Linked DNA regions of Homo sapiens. The protein of the gene in region 1 purifies or fractionates together with the protein of each later gene. This does not show direct contact. Each region holds a gene or a part of one and is shown on either strand. Other genes may lie near its edges. The genes, in order: SLC25A12 and NNT.

Region 1 (4,024 bases):
AGCAGGGTAGTCTGTGGAGCAGAAAATCAAACAAAAAGAAAAGAATCAGGACACTTGTATGAGAGGCAGTGGGATACACATGCAGCCTCTCCTGTTGTCATCAGGCTTTTATGAAACTGCCAGCAAGGAGGCCAGCACCGCAGACCTGCTGGCCTCAGGCTCACAGCCTTTCATTTGCTGGGGGGCTTGGGAAAACTTTCCCTGGTGCTCTCTTTGGGTTGGTTTAGGGCTTCAAAATAGTCTTATGTTTATTTTCGGTCTGATTATCTCTATTGTTATCTTCCCAGTGGGAGCTTTTGTCTTAATAATTTGACCACAGTAAAACAGTAGTAGAGTTTGGTAGGATTCAGGTCTTTAAGAAGTTAAGTGGTAGGATTTGTCAATAATGAATTCCATTAAAAAAAAAAAAAACAAACCAACAACAGAGTGTACTGTACTTTAACAAAATGCCAGTCAAAAGATTCCTTCCCTGCGGGTATACTTACTCCCATCATTACAGATCAGATGTAATGGAGCAGAAGCTATTATTTTTCTTAAACAAGGAAGAATATTTCTTTCCATTCCTTTGCCTGGTATAAGGGGAATACGTAAATTTAGCCACCATAGCCAAGTGTGTTTCCACAGCATCTGATATAGATCCATCACTGCAGAAATGTGTAAATTTGTTTCGGTAACTGCAAATTAGAAATTAGAAATTCTCTAGATTGGAATCACACAGCTACAGGGTTCTCTGGAGACCAGCAAACAATGATGCCTGTCTCAAGAGAGTTTCGTACACATTTTTGCTTCCTCCTCCCCACTCCCAATTTCCATCCTTTTTGAATTCCCTTTGAGAGATGAATTTATTAATATTGCTTCTCTCTGTATTATCCTTTAGCGAGTCCTTGGATTTTTTTTTTTTCAATGTTTGAGTTTGTCTTTTTTTAAAAAAGCCAGGGCTGGGAGCACTGGCTCACACTTGTACTCTCAGCACTTTGGGAGGCCAAGGCAGGGGGATTGCTTGAGCCCAGGAGTTCAAGACCAGCCAGGGCAAAATAGCAAGACCTTGTGTCTACCTTAAAAAAAAAAAAGAAAGAAAAAATTAGCCGGCACAGTGGTGCACACCTATCATCCCAGCTACTCAGGAGGCTGAGGTGGGAGGATCACTTGAGCTCAGACGGTCAAGGCTACAGCAAGCTGTGATCCTGCCACTATGCTCCAGCCTGGGCAACATAGTGAGACCCTGTCTCAGAAAAAAAAAAAAATTAAAAAGAATAAAACAGAGTCATTAAAAAAACAAGCGCCAAGGTGGAGTGTTTGCCTAGCTAGGTAGTGGAATGGTGTGGGCTTCTGACAAAGCTGAGGGAGGTGTTCTTTGAGACCTCAGTCATTGGGACAAGCTGCCCCTGGGTAATGATTTTCTACTCCTGTGGAAACCTGCCGCTAAAATATTTTGTCTGCTATTTAGGACATGGGGAATGAGGAGAGAAGATTTGGGTTTCTTTTCCCCCTGCTCTAGAGTAGTTACTTTTCCTTCACCACTGCCTATAGCTTTTTACCTGGCACTGCGGGGACTCTCAGCTGATGTAAAAACTTAAGAGGGTAGATCTTGTGTGTTTTTACCATAGTAAGAGATTAATTAATTTTAAAAACTCTGAATCTATATAAGAAATGCCAGAAAGTTCTTAGTTTTCAGAATACTATCATTACCCAGTTATTAACTCTAGGACTGCAGGATTCACCATGCTTTCACAAGCTTTGAGATATGCAGATTTCCCTATTCCCCACTTATCTCCCGCCTCCCCCATTTCCCTTGCACATCAGTTCTAATGCTGTTTAAGGGACACCTCAGGCTTGTCACTGAGGGACACCTCAAGCTTGTCACTGACAAATGTCACATGGATCCCATTTGGGCATTCACACTCAGTTTCACACTGTTTTGCACTATTTCCTCACTGTGTGACAGGGTGCCAAAGCGTGTTTCCTCCGAGACATTCCCTTCTCTGCAATCTATTTTCCTGTTTATGCTCATTGCAAACTACTTCTGGCTGATGAAAATGGACACGTGGGAGGTTTAAATCTTCTTGCAGCTGGAGCCATGGCAGGTAACTACAAATTTTTTTTTAACTGAAAGAATTCTCCCATTATTTAAAAAGTACAGAATCTCTATGTACTTTCCCCCTTTATTTCTGGAAGTATTATTGTTTGTACCTGACTTAGTTTAAATATCACTTTTTCTCCTTTGTGGGATGTGCTGTAATTCTGATGAGAGTTAATTACATTTGCATAATGTGGATAAACAGCTTAATGCAGCTTAGCAACTCAGAGCCAAATTAGATCTGCCCATCTAAATTGGGCTTTCATCATTAACATGTTTCTTAGTTTCCTGTGCCCCTGAAACCTTGAGTACAGCCAAGCTAAGCATTAAGGTGGGAAAGTTTTTCCTCAAATCAGTTGCTTAGCTGTATCTCATGCTCATGCACAGATCTAGCATGCTCTTACTTTCTCTCTTCTGTATATTGGAATCTACATGATTTGGCCGAAAATTGAGCTTTTGTCGTGAAGCTGTCCCTCTTCTTCCTACCATTGCCCTCATTAGACCAAAGTAAGCAGTACCCCTCAGCAAACCACCTTGAACTCAATTTTTGTATTTTTTCTAATCGTTAACACTTTGTCATTAGCCAGGTGTAGTGGTGCGTGCCTGTAGTCCCAGCCAGCTACCCGGGAGGCTGAGGTGGGAGGATCACCTGAGCCTGGGAGGTCAAGGCTGCGGTGAGCCGAGATGACACCACTGTACTCCAGCCTGGGTGACAGAGTGAGAGCTTGTCTCAAAAAAAAAAAAATTTGTCTTTTATTAATAGTTATTTGCATAATTGTTATCCTCTGTACTAGGCTAATAGCTTCTTGAGGGCAAGAGTTTCATTCTCTTCATCCTTGCCTTTCCTACGTGGCCAGTGTAATAGTAATAGGTGCTCAATAAATGTCAATAACATGAATGAAAACCTTCATGTCGTCTAAGATACCAAATTAGGCACAGAAGAGATTTCATTTGAAAGAGGAGCCTTGTAAGAGCAGGGAGGTACTAAGATGCTTCCTTCTGACCTCATAGGTACAGCCTGACTCTTGAGTTAGGAAGGAGCTGACTTGGAATAGAAGGAGAGAACCAGGTGTCCTTGGCTGCACCAACACTCTGAAAAGACAAAGGAAGGAAGGGGTGCATGTTTGCTCTCTATACAACCAGTAATGAACCATTACAGAGCTCAGTGTGGCTCTGACCAGCCAGGCTTATGTTCACTGTGTTGCTCTTCCTTGCTGGGCTCATTCTCCTCTGGAGGCTCTGGCTAAACATCAGGGCAACCTGAGCAGCTCCCGGAGTGTGCTGTGCTTGTTGTGTGGTAGGAGCCCTTGGGCCTGAGAGTGTTGCGATGGACCACGTTGTTCTTGCTCGTGAAGACAGGGATGACTTTGATCATTAAGAAACGGCCCCAGGGAACTTACCGCCCTTATTTGGGGCCCAGCAAGTCCTTTCTCCTCTAGCAATGGTAATTTTAGTCAGTTTTGTGTTTAAAAGCCAGTAAAGTTACCTGCTCAGTCTTGGCAGTGAGCTGTTTGTAGCAGCCCCTTTCTGGTACTTACCAGTCTCCCACTTTTTTTTTTTTGGTGAGACAGAATCTTGCTCTGTCACCCAGGCTGGAGTGCAGTGGTACAATCTCTGCTCACTGCAACCTCTGCCTCCCGGGTTCAAGCGATTCTCCTGTGTCAGCCTCCCAAGTAGTTGGGACTACAGGCGTGTACCACCATGCCTGGCCAATTTTTGTATTTTTAGTAAAGACAGGGTTTCACCATGTTGGCCAGCACAGCTGGTCAGAGCCACACTGAGCTCTGTAATGGTTCATTACTGGTTGTATAGAGAGCAAACATGCACCCCTTCCTTCCTTTGTCTTTTCGGAGTGTTGGTGCAGCCAAGGACACCTGGTTCTCTCCTCCTTTTCCAAATCAGCTCCTTCCTAACTCAAGAGTCAGGCTGAGGCCGAGCTTGGTGGCT
Region 2 (3,581 bases), on another chromosome or scaffold:
ATACAGCTCATCTATGCTCAGGAATTAGGAATTAAGTATATTAATTGGTCTACATTAATGCTTTCCAATTTAGTTAGTAGCAATTTGATTGCAGTTGCTCAGGTCAGAAACCCTGGAGTCATTCTACATCCTCCTAGTAGGTATAGGTCAGCTCCATCTCATATCTACAAACTGTCCTCTTCTTGCCATTGCTACTTTTATCATCTTGGTCCAAGCCATCGTCATCTGTCACCTGTACTGATGCACCAGTCTTCTAAATGTCTCTGTGCTTTTTACCTCTGCCCCCTACAGTCTGTTCTGCACAGGACAGTGAGAATAATCTTTTTAAAATGTACAGTCATGTCACTCCTCAATTCAAAATTTGCCACTTGCTTCCTAGCTCTTACAGAGGAAGATCTGAAGTCTTCCAGTGGCCTACAAGGCCTTCCCTGATAGAATGTCTCCTTGCTTCTGTTCTGGGGTACAGGCCAGAAGGAGGAGAGGCTAAAAAGGGGCCCTTCTAAACCAAGTCAACTGTCTGTCTTTTTTTTTTTTTTTTTTTTTTAAGCAGCAGCAAGATTTATTGCAAAGAGCGAAAGAACAAAGCTTCCACAGAATGGAAGGGGACCCGAGCAGGTTGTCCCCCAAGTCAACTCTCTTTCATCAGTCTTGCCCAAAGATCATCCCAGTACTTCTGTCACTTCACCTCACTGTCCAGAACTCAGACATGTAGCTGTAAGGGAGACTTGGACATTTTGCTGTAAGGGAGACTTGGACATTTTGTCTTTTATTCTAGATGGCAATGTACCCAGCTAAAAATGGCATTTTCTTATTAAGGTGAAGGAACAGGATGGATATTTTGGGGGGCAACCTTTGTCACCTAGAATAATGCCCTCTTTTGTTTTTTAAGTTTGTAGGACTGTTTGTGGATTCATTAAGGACCTCTAAACTGCTAGGTGTTTTGAGATCTTATGTCTGCCTTGAATAGATTTTATAGCCTCTTTTCTTGTTCTCAGATGACAAGTCACAATTGGCAGGGTATCTGTCCCTACAAGCCTCCAACTTTATCTTCAGATGCTTTCTTTTAAATTGCTCTGGAAAGCCAGATTATCCTGGTGATAAAATTGTGTATAAAATAAAGGTAAATAACTGTTGAAGACATGAAAACTGTCCTTGTGAGTAAATCCATGGACATCAAGATCTCTATATTGATTATGTATAAGACATTTTTGTTTAATTTCTGGTTCTTCACTATTTCCTAATTATTTTTATCTCTGAAAGATAAGAAGTCTATTTTTTCCTTAATATAACCATAAGTTCATTACCATATTGAAAAGTGTAGTAAGTAATTCCAGCTACAGTCAGTATTCATATTTTTTCAATTGCTTTCTTGCTTCTTTCCTTCCTTCTTTCCTTCCTCCCTCCCTCCCTCCCTGCCTCCCTCCCTCCCTCCCTCTTTTTCTTTACAGTTGGCTTGTTCAAAGAGTGATCCAAACAGGGTCCACACATTGTATTTGCTATGTCTCTTTTGTCTCTTTTTATCTATAAGTTCCCCTCTCTTTATTCCTTTTAATATACTGAAGAATTTCATTGTTGCTCTGTAGAATTAACAACATTCTAGGTTTGGCTGATTGAATCCTCTTGGTATTGTTTAGCCAGTTTCTCTGTCCCTTGTATGTGCTTAAATTATCTCTTATTTGGTCAGTGGAAGCCCTTTCAAATTGGCTTCTAAATCCTTTTGACATGGCTTCAGTCATCTTTGGTAGCTTCCTTGCTTTTGCCATGTAGAGCCTGACAATTTGAGGTTGTCAGCTAAGTGAACTTGAGATGAGTGTATGTGATTGAGCTTTGTATGTCAATCCAAATATTTGCCAGCTTTCTATTATTTTCCTCCTTCTCCTTCCAGTAAGGAGTAAGATTCAGCATTATTTGCCTTTCGTGTACTGTAAATTATTACTATATAGGTAGTGTGGAATCTAAGACAGTGTTCAAATTCAGGTCTAGGTTGACTTAATTTCTCTAAGGTCTTACTTAATAAGTTACTTTGTAGGGATAATTTCATTCATTTTGAAATTATACATATTCAGATCTTAGGTTGCAAGAATGGGTTTCCTAAGCTTTAATAAACCTTATATAGAAACAGATACTCTTCATTAAAAAATGTTTATGCTGCATATTAAGTAAAACATCAGGAGAAACTGATGTCCTGTAGCTAAAGATGGTCTGAACCATATCTAAATATAAGATTGTACTATATAGGCTTTTTTGGGTTGCAAGGAACAGAATCACATCAGATTATATTTTGTGATGAGGGTTTGCTATGTGGATTCTTGGCAAGTGTGAGAGCCCAGAAACCCCCCATCTACTCCTTGGATAAGTGGAATGTTATTTGTAGAATTCATGGCTGTGACCCATCTTCTCTCTTTAAATATCTACTACTGATGTTTCTATCACTGTTACTGCTGACCTCCCTTTGATTACCTCATAGCTGTGCTTACAAATAATATTTGCACTGATCTACTCTCCTTGTCCCTCTCTGTGGGTCTCCCATTTAAACTCCTTGAGAGAGAACCCAGTGGGTTGAGTAGTCACTGGCCAACATAGAGCGTCCTTGGACAGAGTTCCTGTCTAAGTCATCTTATAAGGTGCAGCTGCTAGTTTTCCTTGTCTGCCCTGTAGATGATTGTCCTTGACACAGTTGCTGATCCCTTGTCTAAGTGGCTGAGTGTGTAGAGTCTTAAGATACAACACTTAGAAATTTATGAGGCATTGTGTGTGGCCAAATTGCCTGGAAGGGAACTTTGAGTGTGGCAGGCCATCAAAGTGTCTAGGATACAGTTGTTCTTCAAAATAGCTAATTACTTCCAATTTTGTTAAAAGTAAGGGCAAGGAGACCATAACCTTGCCCTTAGTTTGAAGAATGGAGTCAGCATGTGGAGGGATCTCTAAACCCATTTTTTTTTCTCCTACAAATCAACTAAGCTTGTTATATTCCTTGAAGAAAGCCAATTGATTAAATAAAATATTTAGAAGTTTCAGAAGAGTAGGCATAAAAGTTTCTTATAATCTACCACAAAAGTCAAAGAATTATAAGTATGAATCAGGAACATCATTCTGAACAGCAGCTTGCATGTGTGGTATATTTTGAAGAAAAGATTGCTCCTTTCAATTTTCTGAAATCTGTTTTTAAACATTTTTTGTTTGTTTTTTTACCAAATATATATTTTTTTTGCCTTTGCTTGTTTCTAGGAATTCCATATAAGCAACTGACTGTTGGAGTCCCCAAAGAGATATTCCAAAATGAGAAGCGAGTGGCATTGTCTCCTGCTGGTGTTCAGAACTTGGTCAAGCAGGGTTTTAATGTTGTCGTGGAATCGGGTGCGGGCGAAGCTTCCAAGTTCTCAGATGATCACTATAGAGTGGCAGGTGCCCAAATCCAAGGGGCAAAGGAAGTGCTGGCTTCTGATTTGGTGGTCAAAGTAATTATTCCTTTTTCCTCTCCCATTTACAGCATGCTGACTTTTTGAAATCTTTTCATAGAAAAATTAAATTACTTTATCTGGAGTTACACCTTTTCCTATTTTCAAACAGTGTATTTTTCT

The links.
Region 2: the proteins of SLC25A12 (region 1) and NNT fractionate together in Homo sapiens (co-fractionation; one large-scale study listed by BioGRID). This does not show direct contact.

What each region holds. Positions count from the first base shown.
Region 1 is NC_000002.12:171,789,511-171,793,534, reverse strand, and holds part of SLC25A12 (electrogenic aspartate/glutamate antiporter SLC25A12, mitochondrial), read left to right. Parts: intron 1-1,945; coding exon 1,946-2,084; intron 2,085-4,024. UniProt on the Homo sapiens protein: Mitochondrial electrogenic aspartate/glutamate antiporter that favors efflux of aspartate and entry of glutamate and proton within the mitochondria as part of the malate-aspartate shuttle.
Region 2 is NC_000005.10:43,609,680-43,613,260, forward strand, and holds part of NNT (NAD(P) transhydrogenase, mitochondrial), read left to right. Parts: intron 1-3,228; coding exon 3,229-3,458; intron 3,459-3,581. UniProt on the Homo sapiens protein: The transhydrogenation between NADH and NADP is coupled to respiration and ATP hydrolysis and functions as a proton pump across the membrane. May play a role in reactive oxygen species (ROS) detoxification in the adrenal gland.